4 linked regions of the Homo sapiens genome follow. The gene in region 2 interacts genetically with the main gene of each other region. Each region holds a gene or a part of one and is shown on either strand. Other genes may lie near its edges.

Region 1 (4,447 bases), on a different chromosome or scaffold from region 2:
GCAGGGCCAGTCAAGACGGCGAAAGGGGCCCCACTGTGAGCGGCCACTAACCCAGGAGGAACTGCTCCGGGAGGCCAAGATCACAGAAGAGCTTAATTTACGGTCACTGGGTAAGTCTGTGGTTTCAGAAAAAGTGAGTAGAGGGGCTGAGGGGCATGAGAAAAACCATGAGACCTGGAGGACCAAAGAACTGGAGAGATGGAAATTTGGGATGATGGAATCAGAAGGAAGAAATGGCGGAGAGTAGGTAATTAGGTGCAAGAGTCTAGGCAGTTATGAGCACTCTGAAGAACAAGCTAAGGTACTTTGGTGTAAAATAAGAGTTGTATAGAACTGAGGTCAAATCCTCGTTCTGCTATTCATTTGCTTTAAGTCTGTAGGTAAATTACTTATTCACATTTTGCTTTTCTTGTTTATAAAATGGGGTATATACCTAATGACTCAGGAAATTTAGGCAGGAGGATCACTTGAGGCCAGGAGTTCATAACCAGCCTGGACAACATAGTGAAACCCCATCTCTTAAAAAAAAAAAAAGCAGGGGGTGATAATGTTGACTTTAATGATAATCATGAGAACGTGAAGTCAGCAGATTAGTCCTTCATGAGATAAATTGCTTTAAAAATCTCTTCATTTTATGGTATTGCTTTAAAAATCTCTTCAGTTTGGGCCAAGCGCAGTGGCTCATACCTGTAATCCCGGCACTTTGGGAGGCCAAGGTGGGTGGATCACTTGCAGTTGGGAGTTCCAGACCAGCCTGGCCAACATGGTGAAACCCTGTCTCTACCAAAAATACAAAAATTAGCTGGGCATGGTGGCGCATGTCTGTAATCCCAGGTACTTGGGAGGCTGAGGCAAGAGAATCATTTGAACCTGGGAGGTGGAAGTTGCAATGAGCCGAGATCACACCACTGCACTCCAGCCAGGGCTACAGAGCGATTGGTTTGGACCACTGTAAGGAGAGTGACTCCCAGGTTTTCCTTTCTTTTTTTTTTTTTTTTTTTTTTTGAGACAGAGTCTTACTCTGTCGCCCAGGCTGGAGTGCAGTGGTATGATCTCGGCTCACTGCAAGCTCCGCCTCCTGAGCTGGAGATTCTCTTGCCTCAGCCTCCCAAGTAGCTGGGATTACAGGTGCCCGCCACCATGCCCAGCTAATTTTTTTGTATTTTTAGTTGAGATGGGGTTTCACCATGTTGGCCAGGCTGGTCTTGAACTCCTGACCTCAGGTGATCCACCCGCCTCACCCTCCCAAAGTGCTGGGATTACAGGCTTGGGCCACCCCGCGGCAATTCCCAGGTTTTCAACATCAGTAACTGGCTTAGGAGACCCTGAAGGAGGAGCAAGTTCAGTGGGGAAAAAACAAATTTATTTTTGAACATGTTGAATTTAAGGAGTTTGTGAGCAATTCATGCAGTGATGAGAGGTCAGTTAAATATGCAAATCTGGTGTTCCAATAAGAGATCTGGGCTGAAAATACAAATTTGGAAGTCTTTAGAATATGGGTGGTAATTGACAATATTGGAGTGCATCTGAGCATGTAGGGAGAAAGCTCAGAGTGAGAAAACAGAGGCCTGATAGAGTCCTGCAGACACTAAAATGTGATAGTTTCATACAAGAGGAGGAGCTTTGAAAAGAGCCTGGAAGTGACCAACGAGTTGGAGAAACCCAGGAGAGTTTGTGTTAAAAATGCCAGGAAAGAGAATGTCTCAAGAGAGTAATTGCTGCTGAGACGATGATTAGTAGAACTGAGAAGTGCCCATTGGTTTTGGTGAGATAGAGGTCAGACATTACCTTAGCACTTTTTGGGGACCAAGTCGAATCAAAGTATATTGGGGAGCAAAACTTTTCAAGCTTGGCCATGAAGGGTAGAAGAGGGAATGGAAGCTACAGAGGGGTGTGAGATTAAGGTAAAGTTGTTTTTATTTTATTCGAAGATATTAGAAATTATGTCTTTCATGAGAAAGAACTGAGTTTAAAGAAAGAGAAGAAAAAACGGTTATTAATAGTGTAGGTTTTTGGAGATGGGAGGCAAGGCTGGGAACCAGAGCAGCATGGTGGAGGAATTGGCTTCAGATGGGGGAAGGGAGAAAGAAAGTGTGGTGGCCGGGCGCCGTGGCTCACACCTGTAATCCCAGCACTTTGGAAGGCTGCGGCGGGTGGATCATCTGAGGTCAGGAGTTCGAGACCAGCCTGACCAACATGGAGAAACCCTGTCTCTACTAAAAATACAAAATATTAGCTGAGTGTGGTGGCACATGCCTGTAATCCCAGCTACTTGGGAGGCTGAGGCAGGAGAATCACTTGAACCCGGGAGGCGGGGGTTGCGGTGAGCCGAGATCGTGCCATTGCACTCCAGCCTGGGTAACAAGAGTGAAACTCTGTCTCAAAAAAAAAGAAAGAAAGTGTGGCTTAGCTGAGTGCAGTGGCTCATGCCTGTAATCCCAGCACTTTGGGAGGCCAAGGAAGGAGGATCGCTTGAGCCCAGGAGTTCAAGACCAGCCTGGGCAACATAGTGAGACCCTGTCTCTGTTTAAAAATGTGGCTTACAGTTGTAGGTTTGTAATCCAGAGGGAGGGCATGGCGGAGGTTCTCACCTGATGTCTTTTTCATTATGCAGCACCATCTGTCAAACATTAAGGATACAGCTGGAAGCTTGAGGAGACTGAGGAGCATTTAAATAGTTATTGATGTGGGATATTGAGCAGTATTGAGGGACCTGCTGAAGGCTAGGACCATGAATTTATGGTGGTTCCAGTCTGTGCTGTTATTTTTCTCCAGTAGCACTCAGCAGTCCAGATCAGGGCAAGGGAATTATTGACAGGAGAGTGACTGAAGTGATTGAAATGATACAGTGAGCAACCTAAGCATGATTTAAAAAGGAAAATGTGACTGGGCGCGGTGGCTCACATCTGTAATCCCAGCACTTTGGGAGGCCGAGGCAGGCGGATCACAAGGTAAGGAGTTCGAGACCAGCCTGGCCAACATGGTGAAACCCCGTCTCTACTAAACATACAAAAAATTAGCCAGGCATGGTGGTGCGTGCCTGTAGTCCTGGCTACTCGGGGGGCTGAGAATCACTGAGGAGAATCACTTGAACCCGGGAGGCGGAGGTTGCAGTGAGTGGAGATCGTGTCGCTACACTCCAGCCTGGGCAACAGAGTGAGACTCAAAAAAAAAAAAAAAGTAAAGTGACATGGAAAAGAAGGTTGTTAGAGATGAGGTGATAAACTGTGGCCATGCAGTGTTGAAGGGGCTACCCATGTGCACTTCGAAGTCACCAGGGTGACCCTAAGATGATGGGAATTGGGGTAGAGACGAAGAGTGGAAACCACTGCCAAAGTCTTCAGTGAATGAAGGAGTGACCATGACTAGGAAGGAGAGAAGTTAATCTAGACTCTTGGCACAGGTCTCAAAAGAGAAGGGAGTTTGCTGGTAGGCAGAAAAGCAGTGCTCTGAAAGCTACAGGGTGGGGCCCAGTAGGACATAGGTATATCCTGTAGGGATGTAAGAGAATGAGCAACCTCCACCAGAGGTCTGCAGAGAGGAGTGGTGGCCTCAGTGAATGACCAGGTTTCTGTTAAGGCAAGTCATGGAAGGAATGCTGAGTGAGGAGCTTGAGGATATAGATGAGTTGGCAGATTACAGAGCACGAGTTCCAGAGGGTGTAGGCAAGTGTTTGAAAGTAGAGGGGTTGGGCCAGGCGTGGTGGCTCACGCCTGTAATCCCAGCACTTTGGGAGGCTGAGGTGGGCGGATCACGAGGTCAGGAGTTCCAGACCATCCTGGTCAACATGGTGAAACCCCGTCTCTACTAAAAATACAAATATTAGCTGGGCATGGTGGCACGTGCCTATAGTCCCTGCTACTCAGGAGGCTGAGGCAGGAGAATTGCTTGAACCTGGGAGGGGGAGGTTGCAGGGAGCCGAGATTGTGCCACTGTACTCCAACCTGGCGACAGAGCAAGACTCTGTCTCAAAAAAGAAAAAGAAAGTAAAGGGGTTGAGGCGTTGGAAGACTGGCTCAAAGGAGAGAAAGCAGTATTATCAAACAGTTCAAGTGCAAGAGAGGTTCAATCATTGGAAGGGTTTCCAGAGTACTCTTTTTTTTTTTTTGAGACGGAGTCTTGCTCTGTCACCCAGGCTGGAGTGCGATGGCACAATCTCAGCTCACTGCAACCTCCGCCTCCCAGGTTCAAGTGATTGTCCTGCCTCAGCCTCCCGAGTAGCTGAGATTACAGGTGCAAGCCACCACGCCCAGCTAATTTTTGTATTATTAGTAGAGACAGGGTCTCACCATGTTGACCAGGTCTGTCTCAAACTCCTGACCTCAGGTGATCCACCCGCCTAGGCCTCCCAAAGTGCTGTAATTACAGGCATGAGCCACCGCACCTGGCCTCCAGAGTACTCTTTTATGGTCAGACTTTAGGGAATTGTGTTCATCATAACCATATT
Region 2 (4,447 bases):
ACAAAGGAAGGGCCTGGTCTTAAATCCACATCTAATACTAAAATCTGTGCTCTTAACCACAGTGGTGTATTGCCTAAACGTCTTTGTTCTACGTGATTTCAAGGGATAGAATATAGCAGTTTATATTTCTACTAAATTTTCACCCTACAACAAATATATCCACTAATCTACTAAATACACATCTGCTATAAACAAATCTTTGTTGTGTAAGGCTCAGTTTCCAGATAAAAATCTTACTATGATCCATGTAGTAGATGAGAAATTCTAGAAATAAATGAAAATGTTCTGTCTGCCTTACCGTCAATAACAAATGCTTCAACATCATCAGCTCCAATCTGAAGTTCTTGCTGCATTGTGTCAAAAGAAATTTCCTTATTTTCTACTGCCATTCCCATAAAAGTAAGTAGTCTCATTTTTGCCATATTCTGTTCATGTAACAGGCCTAGAAAACAGAATAGTGAAGCCTGATGAGTGTTCATACTAATTAAAGACCTGCACAATTACATCTCATGTTAAGCTGTGGAAATTATTTTTACTTTTGTAATTGTGGAAATTATTGTTTGAGCACTTATATAGAACAATTTTGACAAAGCTTCTTATATTTGCAAACTATAAACTGACTCCACAGAGTATTAAAAACAATTTTTCTATAGTACCATAGGTGATAGATTCAAAGTTAAGAATCGGCCATAAAATGATTATTTTTAGACCCTAAAAGTTTTGCACATTTTACATTTTTAAATAGTTATACATTTTAGGAGATAAAATCTACAAAGTACATTTCATAAGAACAATTTCTATTTAGTTAAATTACCTAAGCTTATTTTTCACACTAATAGCTCTTCATTTAAACACAGAGGATTTCTTATCTACTTATTAGTTTTTTCTGTGTTACTATTACTGGTAAACCTGAAGTTTTAAAATACTTTCACAAACATTTTCAGTTATGAAAACATTCCATTTTGCTTCAGGTCACTATTTAAAAATCAAAACTACTTACAAACCAAAACTGTCAAAGTGTGTGTGTCATTTAACATTTATAGGCCAATACAGTTAGTACTAGATATAATTAAAGAATACCATTAAAAGTGATACTTGTTCTTTATAAGACAAAAGTAGAAAATTGCACAAATAATTCAAATTTTGCATTATAATTTCTAATGAAACATGCTGTTGTAATTATTCAAATAACAACAATGTGTTAGGCCTAGAAGAAAACTTAAGGAATTACCCAGTCCTGATCCTTTCACTTTAAAAACAAAACTGAGGAGCAAAGAGATTAAATGGGGACTTATAGTCAAAAAATAGCAGTGCTAGGCCTAGAATAGGTTCATTTCTAAAATAAAGGGCTAGAAATTTTAAAAATTAGGAATCCTAAATATATAACCTAGTCCTAAGTAGGAGCAGAATTCTAACATAATATCATATATACTTGTTTTGATGCTAACTTATTAATTATAAAACTAAGTTTCTAAAACTAATCTAGATTTACATGTTCCTTTTCTCTGAACTTTTGAACTATGTAAAATCAGCAAATGATCAATCAAGTGCCCTGTAATAAATTCAGAGCTTCAAGTCTGTATTGTTTAAAAAGTTCACTCTCTAAACACTCCATAAATAAATTTTAAATTTATAACATTCATATATTAGTGGAAGATTAGGGAAGCCCATTAACATAGGACATGATCATCTGTTAATTAGCTGTAATTATGATACAGGCTTCCTATTTGGCACAGATTCAACAAAAACATGATCACCATAACTCAAATGAATGAGGTATACAAGGAAGTATTGCTAACTGGGTTTAATGGAAATCTACAGGCGCCAAGAAATCAATTAGTGCACATTAACCCTAATTAACAATGCAAATTAGATGCCGATTAACTTTCTGAAGCAAAAGGTAGCAACTGGATAACACCAGATTACATGTGGACATGTTAGGGCAATTCAGTTGACACAAGATAATGCTACTGTTGGCCTAAGTTGTCAGTGTTAATAAAGGAAAATGTTCTGACAAACTGATTGCAACTTGTGGAATCTAGATAGTTGTCACTAGGCTTTCAGCTGTAATAAATGTTTAATTATAGAATTAAAATAAAAAATATACACATTAATATAAAGATGTTTTCTGAAAAGCATATAAACAAATTTCTAATAGAATACTGATTTGCATAGATGTTCAAGAAACGTAAGGCAAATGAAGGAATTTGAATTCTAGCTGGCACAATAAATTAGCAATGTTAACGAATTTTTTCTTATCAATGAATAAGTATTAAAGATTTTTTTCAAAAATTCCTTAACATTCTCAGTTCTATTGGCATGGACAGACAACTCTCTTTCAATATAAAGTGATAGAAACTTCTGAAATTTCTATTATTTTAAATACTCCTGAAATTAAATCTATTTTACTGCTTATCTTTTCTGCAGTTACAATCTTACCATAAATGAAAAAACTTATCAGAGGAATGAAGATTATTTCTAGGCTGAATTCCATAAAACCGTTATCTATTTTACATGTGAAAACTTGCATCTAAAAACACTTTAAATTGATGTTTAAAGTAACAAAGAACCAAACTTAAAACCCTTAGGACTCTTGTTCTGAAAAATCAAACTACTAAGGCAGTGAAGTATGAGTTAAAGACTTTGTAGGAAGCTGTGCTTTGTTTCATAAAACTAAAATACTACCATCAAAGAGGAAGTCACAGTGTACTGTGTCATATTTCAATTTTAAAGTTATAAAAAATCTAATTTTATGGAAACATTTATTCATTACTAATATGTCAAAACCTTAATGCAGTAATAAAAAAAGTGCATCATTGAGCAATTTCTGCATTGTCACTGACCCCTGTCTTAAAATGCTGCAATATAGAAAACCCAGTTTTAATGCATGCAATAGCTTATGAACCAGTGCTCCTTTGAAACAGTCAATTACACATCAATGGGGGAGTGTCAAAGTGTTAATTACTACTCCTTTTTCCTTGGTGCGTAAATAAAGAGGTTGCTGACATTAACATTCCATCACATAGCTTCATGCCACAAAACAAATTAACTGGGACAGAATGTGGTTTTCTGGGTCTAGTGCACCTGGCAAAGCTTTCTACACAAACACACTTACATCTACTTTATCTTGGTGTATTTCAAATGCCTTATTATGTTCAGAATAAGTCAATCTTCCCCAATTCCAATGGAGGCACACAATTTACAGGTGACAAGCATTAATGATTACCAAATTGAAGACTATCAAAATAGACCATACATTCATCTGTATCGTCAAGAACCAGGAAGACTAGTCTCAAAAACAAAAAAAAATTCAGTCTTAATATGGAAAATATAATCAATCTCTAATGTGTTTTGATTATTGCCTAGTAGGAGAACAAAGCACCTTAGTTTCACAGTTGACTCCAGTGTAAAGAAACTGGTAGTTTACAACATTTAAAACCTGTTCAACTGCAGATTTTCTGAGTTTTCTCTTTGTATTTTAGTATGTTAAAAACATGCTCCAGAAGGAAATTAAAATATTGAACATATGTAGGGTTTGCTCAATAAGGATGAATAAGATTTGATTCAATTTGACAAACATTTACTGAACTGATACGCTAGACAAGAAAATTCAAAGATAAAAATAATAAAGACTATGCTGTTTTCAACAAACGTAGTTAGAAAAGTCTTACTATCATGTAAAATTACATTTCCATTTCTAATTCCATCTTTCAGATCTAACTGGCAATACTATATACTTTTGTAATTTGTTAATGGCGGGGGTATCCAAGCATAAAATAGTATAGTAGGGGGGAAAAAACTATTTGTTACCATTCTGTGGCTATGGCTTAAAAAAAGGGACCAAAAATACAAATCACCATATATCTAAGGAATAAAGTCTTCTACAAAGAAACAATATTATTTTAAGAATAATGTTTAGCTTAATAAAGTACCTTTAATCATCAAATTTTATCAGCTCTTAAAACATTTCTGAAAGTTACCATTATGATCAAAGTAATGGTAATTCTTTCAGTTGCTTTTCTGCTCACTCCTCCATCTCTAAATTTTAAAAACAAATGTACCAATGGAACTATTTCTTCAATCTTCTCCAAACACCCGATTGTTGATATAACTTTACCTCAAAGAATCATGGTACAGAAGAGCTGGAAGGGCCTAAAGTTCAGCAAGCTCTTAAATGAGACAAAAAGGTTCCAAGTCATTTTCTCTCTCTTTTTTTTTTGTTTTTTGAGATGGAGCCTCACTCTGTCATCCAGGCTGGAGTGCAGCAGTGTGATCTGAACTCACTGCAACCTCTGCCTCCCGGGTTCAAGTGGTTCTCTTGCCTAAGGCTCCTGAGTAGTTGGCACTACAGGTATGTGCCACCATGCCCACTAATTTTTGTATTTTTAGTAGAAATGGGGTTTTGCCATGTTGGCCAGGCTGGTCTTGAACTCCTGACCTCAAGTGA
Region 3 (4,447 bases), on a different chromosome or scaffold from region 2:
GGGATTGTAAAAAACAGTGTTTTAATCTAAATTTTCAAAGTCTAGAGGATTAAAATACACAGGAGCACATTTTAATGAAGAAACAATAAAATGTGCAATAAAATGCTATGCCCTGAGCAGAATACAAAAAATGTATACAACATAGCAATTGTTAAAAAGTAAACCCATGCACACCTCCAGTCAATAAAATACAATACAGTCATTAAAAGAATGCAGTAGATCCACATGTGTGAATAAGTAGGGAAAAACATCTATGTCTTACCTTTGGGAAAAAGCCCAAATGATGGGAAAGAGAAGCCTTACTTTTCATTTTATATATTTTCTGTACCATCTGAATTTTTTTTTATGTGCAAGCAAATTTATATATAGAAAGAGATAAAGAAAAGATACCCAAATGTTTTGGTGTGTATGGGTAATGAAACCATATATAATTTATACACTTTGAATTCTCTTTAGAATGATATAGTATAGCATAGGCACTGTTTTAATCTTCTAGCTTTTTAAAAAACCTTCGTTATTTCTAAAAATTTCCTTAAATTATTGGATTTTCAAAATGAAAAAAGAATACAAAGAAAGAATGTGTTACAACAAAATAGCTTTTTAGTGTTGTGAGATTTAGTTTCTTATTAATAAAAAGGAATATAAAGCACATACCTTATTTTCACAGGGCTGCTGTGAAGATCAGCTGAGATACATGTATAAAGCCATTATAGTAATATAAAGTAATAAAATGTGAAGTGGTATAGCATAGCACAGTACAGCGTGGAGCAATGTAATGAAACATAATTTAATGTCATTACCTGACAAACATTGATGAAATCAGGTTTCTCCAAGTTCATGTAGATTTTAACTAGAACTCTTAGTACTTTATTCCGAAACTGTTTATTCTGCATTAAAGACATGCAGAGCTTAAGGCTATAAGCTAACATTCCTGGGACATCATTCTGAAAGAGATAGTTTAAAGATATAACGTTATCTGGTTATTGCAGCATTATATTTATTTAGAAATTGAATTATTTTAATCTTGCTTCTTTAGCCAATCTAGGAAGCCAATTATTTAGACCTCTTAAGCAATACAAACTCAAGAATTTTAAACCATTTTAGATGAAAATCTTAAAAGAATTACATATTTCCACATCATCATAAAAAATGGATTAAAAATAATATTTAGTGGTACTCAGAATCACTATTACATGAACATAGTATACTATAATAAAGTGATGCTGTTAATTATTATAAAAGATATACAACTGTCCATACACTAAGTAGCTATGTTTTCCAAATGTGTCTGCTGAAGTCTTTCTGCTTCTTATCTTGCTACTAGACTCCCTCATGACTTACTGCCTACACTCACTTGCTGGCCAGGAAACACAACACAGCTCTCAGTGACTCAAGCATTGAGTACTGCCACATCTGTCTGGTGCTCTCCCTACAAGAAAACTTTGATCCAGGCTCTATGTGTTTACTTGGTGATTCTCAAAAGTATCCCCAATATTTGAGACTTCACCCTGTAAAAGGCCTTCAACATAAATTAGCACACTGAAAGCTACAGGAGTGTTTCTCAAAAAGTGAGTTGTGACTTTCCACTGCGTAATAAAATCAATTTAATGAAGTGTGACTAGCAAATTAAAAAAATAAAAAATACAATTTAAAAATAACAGAGTTATATCACAAGTAGTAAGAGTAGGTATTAGTTTCATAAAGCTTAAATTACATCTATATGTATATGTGCACTGGGATACAAAGAAAGATGCATTTGTTACTCTGCTTTTTTTTTTTTAAAACATTTTTCATTCTTTTACTTTATATATTTATTTGTTTGACTGCTTGTTCTCCTTCTAGATTCCCCAATGAAGTGTTTGCTTTGGGCAGGAACTTTGTTGGTCTTGTTTGCTACTATAGTAGGTGCTCCTTTATCTGAGAGGACTATGTTCCAGCACCCCCAGCAGATGCCTGAAACCACAAACAGTACCAAACTCTATATAAATTATGCACAAATTTCTGTTTTCTTCTTCACAATTTTATGGATGGAAGATTCATTCTTATGTACATCTCAGCGCAGCCTCAGCACAATTTTTTTTCTTTCCTTATTAAGTTGGGAATTTTCACTTTTTCAATTAAAGGAAGCAGTTTAAGGCTTCTCTTTAGCATATCTAAATTGCCAACATCACTATTTTTGTACTTTGAGGCCATTACTGAGTAGAATAAGGGTTATCTGAACACAAGCACTGTGATATTGCGACAGTCAATCTGATAAGCAAGGTGGCCACTAAAGTGACTAATAGGCAGTGTACACAGCATAGATCTACTAGGATGATTCACATCCCATGCGGGATGGAAAGAGATGGTGAGAGATTTCGTTGTGCTAGTCAGAATGGTGCACAATTTAAGACATGAATTGTTTATTTCCGGAATTTTCTATTTAATATTTTCAGTCTGTAGTTGACTGCAGGTAACTGAAACCACAGAGAGCAAAACCATGGATGAATGGGGACAATGCACATCTCCAATGCCTAGAACAGTATCTGGCAAACAGTAAGCACTGAAAAAATATTTGTTGAATAAATGAAAGCCAAAAATGTAATCTTACACACACGAAGACAAGGATGGGCTAAAACTGCACAAAAATGAAATTGAGAGGGAAACAAGGGCCATTATATCACATTAGGCCATTCATTCATTCACTCATTTAAACAAATCGTATTATCGACGCTAAACACTGTGTTAGGTTTTGGGGATACAGTGGTGAAAAAGGCACAAATACCTGTCCCGATATAGCTTATGATCTAGTGGGAAAGACAGCTATTAACTATCTACTAATACAATTATCAAGGGATAAACACCATGAAAAAATGTACAGGGCTCCATAAGATTAACAACAGAACTGGACCTAGTCTTTGCTTAGGGGCTGAGGAAGGCATGGGTATTGGGATCAAAGTTCTGCAAACAAGGGATAGTTGAGCTAAGTTTTGGATTGTGAGGAGAAATAAAGCAGGCAAAGAAAGGAATGGAGGGCAGGTGTGGTGGCTCATGCCTATAATCCCAGCACTTTGGGCGGCTGAGACGGGTGGATCACTTGAGGTCAGGAGTTTGAGACCAGCTTGGTCAACATGATGAAACCCCAACTCTACTAAAAATACAAAAATTAGCTGGGTGTGGTGGCACACGCCTGTAATCCCAGCTATTCAGGAAGCTGAGATGGGAGGATTGCTTGAACCCCGGAGGCAGAGGTTTCAGTGAGCCAAGATTGCGCCACCGCACTCCAGCCTGGTTGACAGAGCGAGACTCCATCTCAAAAAAAAAAGAAAGAAAAAAGAAATGTAAAAAATATTTTTGGAAGGGGGAACGAGGCAGGGTTCATCTAGATGAGAAGATACCAAAATGGCTAGTGTACAGAGAGCTAGCTCATGGAAAGAAATAGCTGGTGAGGCAAAGTAAGCCTGCAGATCAATGTCCATTTTACTCAGCTTTGTACCTTTCTGACCACTTCGGTTGGTGACTTAAATTGTCTTAATTATTGCAAACACCGCAAACCAGGAATCTAGCTGAGTAGTTTTAACCCTAATAAATGCATTAAAATATAGTTTATTGTCTTCTTAAAAAGGGCAGAGTAATTAATACAACTTCCCCATGCAAGACTTCAAAGGATTATGTGGTAAGATAAAAGCAGATATTTCATGAACACAAAACACAACCAAGGTTCATACATAAATATGAAAATAAAATATTTGGCAAAAGATCACCTGCTATTTCTAAACTAGATTTTCTTTTCACTGCCTATGAAAGTTTCAGTTTGAATAACTTGCTTTGCTGATTCCCTATCAACAATAATTTCTAAAATAACATCATCTACCTACCGACTCCAGTATGGTCTTTTCAAAGACGTCCAGTCTTCGTGTCTCCAGAGCAATGCCAATAGCCTGTTTATACTTGTGATCATCTAGACATCGCTGGAACATTTTATTTACGATGCCTTCCAATCTCTGGTCAATTGGTTTTTTTTCTCCTTCAGGCAAATCTGCATTTTCCACACATTGTTTGGTGTAGTGATCAATGCATTTTGCTGTTGAGGAAATAAAATAACTGATTATCTTGTAAATTGGGCTAAACTATCAGAAAGGGCAATGCCTATATTTATAATCATATATACTTATGGGATGACTATAAAGCAATAAGCAAATTTTGAAATGCTAGAACTTATGCATTTGAATACTGTTCTCCCATAATATTTACACCGGAGAACTACACATTAATTCCAATCCAGTTGACATTATTCAAAACATTTCTATCTGCCAGGTGTGGTAGTGCTCACCCACAGTCCCAGCTACTCGGCAGGCTGAGGCAGGAGGATCACATGAGCCCAGGAGTTCAACGCCAGCCTGAGCACCACAATGGGACCCTGTCTCTTATTTAATTTATTTTTAAAGTTTCTATCTTGTTACTCCAT
Region 4 (4,447 bases), on a different chromosome or scaffold from region 2:
ATCTTCCTAGACCCCAAATCTCATCATACTACTTTTCCACTTAAATCTTTCAGAGATTACCTGCTGCCTCCAGGATAGTGAAAACTTACTAGTATGGTTTATAAGATCCTTCATAACCTCACATTCAAGATCTCACATTACTTCTTTAGCACCTTTGCTTGTCCCTCCCCATTAAACCTTAGTCTATTCTCAAGCCACACCAACACATACTTGCAGTTCCCTAAATACACTGTGCTGTCTTGCTTCTGTCTTTGTACATGCTATTCCTTCAACTTTAAGCACTCTTCCCTGCCCTTCTTCACCTGCTCTATCACTATCTGTCTTTCAAAACTAAGATCAAATGTCTCTTCTTTCAGAATATCTTCCCATACAAGCTTAGCTTGATTTGGGTTAGGTGACCCTCTGCACTCTATGCTTAGCTCTCTTAAAATTAATCACATGACATTTCTTGTCTGTTTTGTGCCCCACCTCCATGTATTTTCTCTGGATAGCCAGCAGTTAGGACACCTAACATTCAACAAGTGCTATTGCCTAGTATCTATTTTTAGAACTAGAGATTCCTCATTTGCCTATGTGTTTTAAAAATCTTAAGGTTCGCACTTCTAATTAAGCCAACTGATGTTTCTTTTTCATTCTTATTTCCAATCTGTTACCTTTTTTTTTAATTTTTTAGAAATAGGGTCTTGATTTGTGACGCAGGCCACAAATTGTACCACTCCAGTACAGTGGTACAATCTCCATTCACTGCTGCCTTGAATTCCTGGGCTCAAGGGATCCTCCCGCCTTAGACACCAGAGTGGCTGGGTCTACAGGCATGTGCCACTGTACGCCGCTAATTTTTTAATTTTTCATAGAGATGGGGTCTCACCATCTTGCCCAGGCTAGTCTCGAACTCCTGGGCTCAAGCGATCTTCCTGCCTCAGCCTCCCAAAGTGGTAGGATTACAGGCACAAGCCACTGTGCCCAGCCTCCTTTCTGTAACTTTTCAGTCCTAGTCCATCCCAGCCGACCCTTTTCCTACCTTCCCCTCCCATGATCCCACAGTCCTTTCACCACCCTGACCTCAATCTCAGCATAGCACTGGCCGGCAAACACATGACCTCCATCTTCTACAATGTACTGGATTAACTTCCCAGCAGAAGGTGAGCGCATCACCGATGGGTCATTTTCCTTCTCAAACACACAGGTTTTATTGCCAATTGTGATGCGATATCTAGGAGACAAGTGGAAGTATGTAAGCTAAGAAAGCACCTCAGGATGTAAAGGAGAATGGTAGAGAATGTCAACCTTCAAAGAAAAAAAATCCTGAAAACTTTATTATACACACACACAGACATATTCACTGCATATTTGTTTACAATGTCAATTAACATAAATTTCCTTCAATAAGGATCAGATTAAATATAGTATAATCATATAATGGAATACCACATGACTATTAAAAATAACAGGTACCACCATTTAAAAAAACACACACAAAGATATTGATGACGTAATAGCTAACATTTCTTGAAGCCTAGCTATGTTGTGGCAATGTTCTACACATTTTCAACATGTTAATTTATTTCATTCTCATAACACCATAACTGGTGTTGAACATTTGTGAATTTCTTTTTTTTTTGATACGGAGTTTTGCTCTTGTTGCCCAGACTGGAGTGCAATGGCGTGATCTCGGCTCACCGCAACCTCCACCTCCCAGGTTCACGTGATTCTCCTGCCTCTGCCTCCCAAGTAGCTGGGACTACAGGCATAAGCCACCACATCTGGTTAATTTTGTATTTTTAGTAGAGACAGGGTTTCACCACATTGGCCACACCGGTCTTGAACTCCCAGCCTCAGGTGATCCACCTGCCTCGGCCTCCCAAAGTGCTGGGATTACAGGCGTGAGCCACCGCGCCCAGCCACATTTGTGAATGTATTTAAAGAAAAACAGTATGTACATGAGTGTAACTTGTATATGCATATAAAATTTCTACTCAAATATGTAAGAAACTTTTAACAATGGTTACTTATAAAAAGGGGAACTTATTTTTCATTGTCCACATACACTGGAGTGGTAGGGAGACATGTTTTTAATTATAAACACTTTAATACTCTTGATATTTTTGTTAAGTGCATGTACTATTTTTTTTTTTTTTAACTACAAATGAGTACCAAGAAAAGCCTGGGAAAATCCCAAGAGCTAGTAGCTAATAAGAGAAAAGGCTAACAGGATGACCAGCAAATGGACCTCAAACAGCCACTTACCTATCCACTTCCTCTTTCATATACGTAGTATAACTGCTGCCATCATAGGACAAGAGCAGTCCACCGTCACTCAGCCGATGTACATCTACTTCTACACATGAGCCATTCATGATCACCACATAGGAGTTGGGGGACTGTCGAGTCACCTGTAGGGAATGAGAATGAGGATCAGTGTGTCCCTTCCAGGTACAGCTCCAAATGAAATTTGAATGCTTCAAAAATACAGATAAGAAAGATCTGTCAGGAGGAAGAAAATTCATGGCACTGATGCTATTTGCATCAGTGTCTGTGGACATGGCTCAGTCCTGCTGTAAGCAAAGAGGGCAACCTTAGTTGATTTTCCCCAACTGTGGTTGTTCTCTGTCTCTCCTTTATCTCTTGGCAGTGTATGTGAAGTTGAAGAACAACAAAAAAGATTTTCATAGAACAACAAACGCTGCTTCAGGACACTGACAAAAATAATGACGGTAATTTCACTAATACCCCCATCCCTGCATTAAATCAAACTTTTTCTCCTGCCTCTCAACCTAAAGAAAGATAGCTAAAAAAGTAAGGTGCAAGCTCCAATGGGGTTCTGCATACCTTAAGTACATACTTGACTCCCTCATAGATAAGTTCAACATCTACTGTATTCAGAAGTGTATGAGCAGGAAGGACTTGACCCCTGAAAGAACGATGAGAGAGGAACTTACTACAAAGTTCTAACAGTTATAAGAGAATCTAAAACATTATTGATTGTAGCATTTCCTAGAATAACAAAAGACTAGAAACAACCTAAATACCTAAATGATCGTTTGTAAGGAATTGATCACATCAATTATGAATCTTACAATGGATTTTTTTAAATTAGGGTAAAATACACATTACATTAAATTTGCCATCTTAACCATTACAAAATGCACAGTTCTATAGTGTTGGGGATATTAACACTATTCTGCAACCAATCTGCAGGACTTTTTCAACTGGCAAAAGTGAAACTCTACACCCATTAACAACTCCCAATTTCGCCCTCCCCCCAGTTCCTGGTAACCGTCATTCTACTTTCTAGTTCTATGAGTCTGACTACTCTTCATACTTCATATAAGTAAAACCATATAGTATTTGTCTTTTTGTGACAGGCTTAATTCACTTGCCCTAATGTCCTTAAGATCCACCTATGTTTTAGCATGTGTCAGAATTTCCTTCTTCTTTAAGGCTGAATAATACTGTATTGTATGTATATGCCACATTTTGTTTATCCAGTCATCCATCAACCAACATCTGAGTTGCTCCCATCTTTTAGCTACTGTGAATAATCCTCCTATGAATGTGGCTGTGCAAGTATCTTTCAGACCCTGCTTTCAATTCTTTCAGAATACCCAGAAGTGGTATTACCAGATCATAGGGTAATTCTATTTTTAATTTTTTCAGTAATTGCAATACCATTTTTCAATAGTGGCTGCATCATTTTACATTCCCATCAAGAGTGCACAAGTGTCCCAATTTCTCTACGTACTTGCCAATACTTGCTATTTTCTGTTTTTTGACAGTGGGCATCCTAATGGGTGTGAGGTGGTATCTCATCATGGTTTTGATTTTATTTACTTAATGATTAGTGATGTTGCGCATGTTTTCACATGTGGAACAAAACATACAGACATTAAAAAGATGTGAACTAAAAAACACTTTAAAAAATATACTGTTGAGTTAAAAAAGCAAGGTAAATAACAGCTTCACAGCATGCTACCATTTGAGTTTTAAAAAACCAGGAGGTGGGAAGAAACAAATATTGCATGTTGATATGGTTCGGCTGTGTTCCCACTCAAATCTCATCTTGAACTGTAGCTCCCATAATTCTCTTGTGGTGTGGGACGGACCCAGTGGGAGATACTTGAATCATGGGGGCGGTTCCCCCATACTGTTCTCATGGTAGTGAATAAGTCTCACGAGAGCTGATCATTTTATAAGGGGAAACCCCTTTCACTTGGCTCTCATTTTCTCTCTTGGCTGCCACCACGAAAGATGTGTCTTTGCTCTTCCTTTGCCTTCCGCCATGATTGTGAGGCCTCCCCAGCCATCTGGAACTGTGACTCAATTAAACTTCTTTCCTTTATAAATTAGCCAGTCTTGGGAATGTCTTTATTAGCAGTGTGAGAACAGACTAATACACATATATATGTTCATGTAAGTTTAGGGTATCTTTGGAAGGTTAGAAAAGAAA

The links.
Region 1: changes in EIF3M (region 2) and VPS72 together harm fitness more than expected from each alone (negative genetic interaction), as found in Homo sapiens cells (one large-scale study listed by BioGRID).
Region 3: changes in EIF3M (region 2) and PSMD1 together harm fitness less than expected from each alone (positive genetic interaction), as found in Homo sapiens cells (one large-scale study listed by BioGRID).
Region 4: changes in EIF3M (region 2) and ACACA together harm fitness more than expected from each alone (negative genetic interaction), as found in Homo sapiens cells (one large-scale study listed by BioGRID).

What each region holds. Positions count from the first base shown.
Region 1 is NC_000001.11:151,179,980-151,184,426, reverse strand, and holds part of VPS72 (vacuolar protein sorting-associated protein 72 homolog), read left to right. Parts: coding exon 1-110; intron 111-4,447. UniProt on the Homo sapiens protein: Deposition-and-exchange histone chaperone specific for H2AZ1, specifically chaperones H2AZ1 and deposits it into nucleosomes.
Region 2 is NC_000011.10:32,596,684-32,601,130, reverse strand, and holds part of EIF3M (eukaryotic translation initiation factor 3 subunit M), read right to left. Parts: intron 443-4,447; coding exon 299-442; intron 1-298. UniProt on the Homo sapiens protein: Component of the eukaryotic translation initiation factor 3 (eIF-3) complex, which is required for several steps in the initiation of protein synthesis.
Region 3 is NC_000002.12:231,066,522-231,070,968, reverse strand, and holds part of PSMD1 (26S proteasome non-ATPase regulatory subunit 1), read right to left. Parts: intron 4,064-4,447; coding exon 3,858-4,063; intron 945-3,857; coding exon 801-944; intron 1-800. UniProt on the Homo sapiens protein: Component of the 26S proteasome, a multiprotein complex involved in the ATP-dependent degradation of ubiquitinated proteins.
Region 4 is NC_000017.11:37,245,764-37,250,210, forward strand, and holds part of ACACA (acetyl-CoA carboxylase 1), read right to left. Parts: intron 2,912-4,447; coding exon 2,830-2,911; intron 2,394-2,829; coding exon 2,248-2,393; intron 1,214-2,247; coding exon 1,063-1,213; intron 1-1,062. UniProt on the Homo sapiens protein: Cytosolic enzyme that catalyzes the carboxylation of acetyl-CoA to malonyl-CoA, the first and rate-limiting step of de novo fatty acid biosynthesis.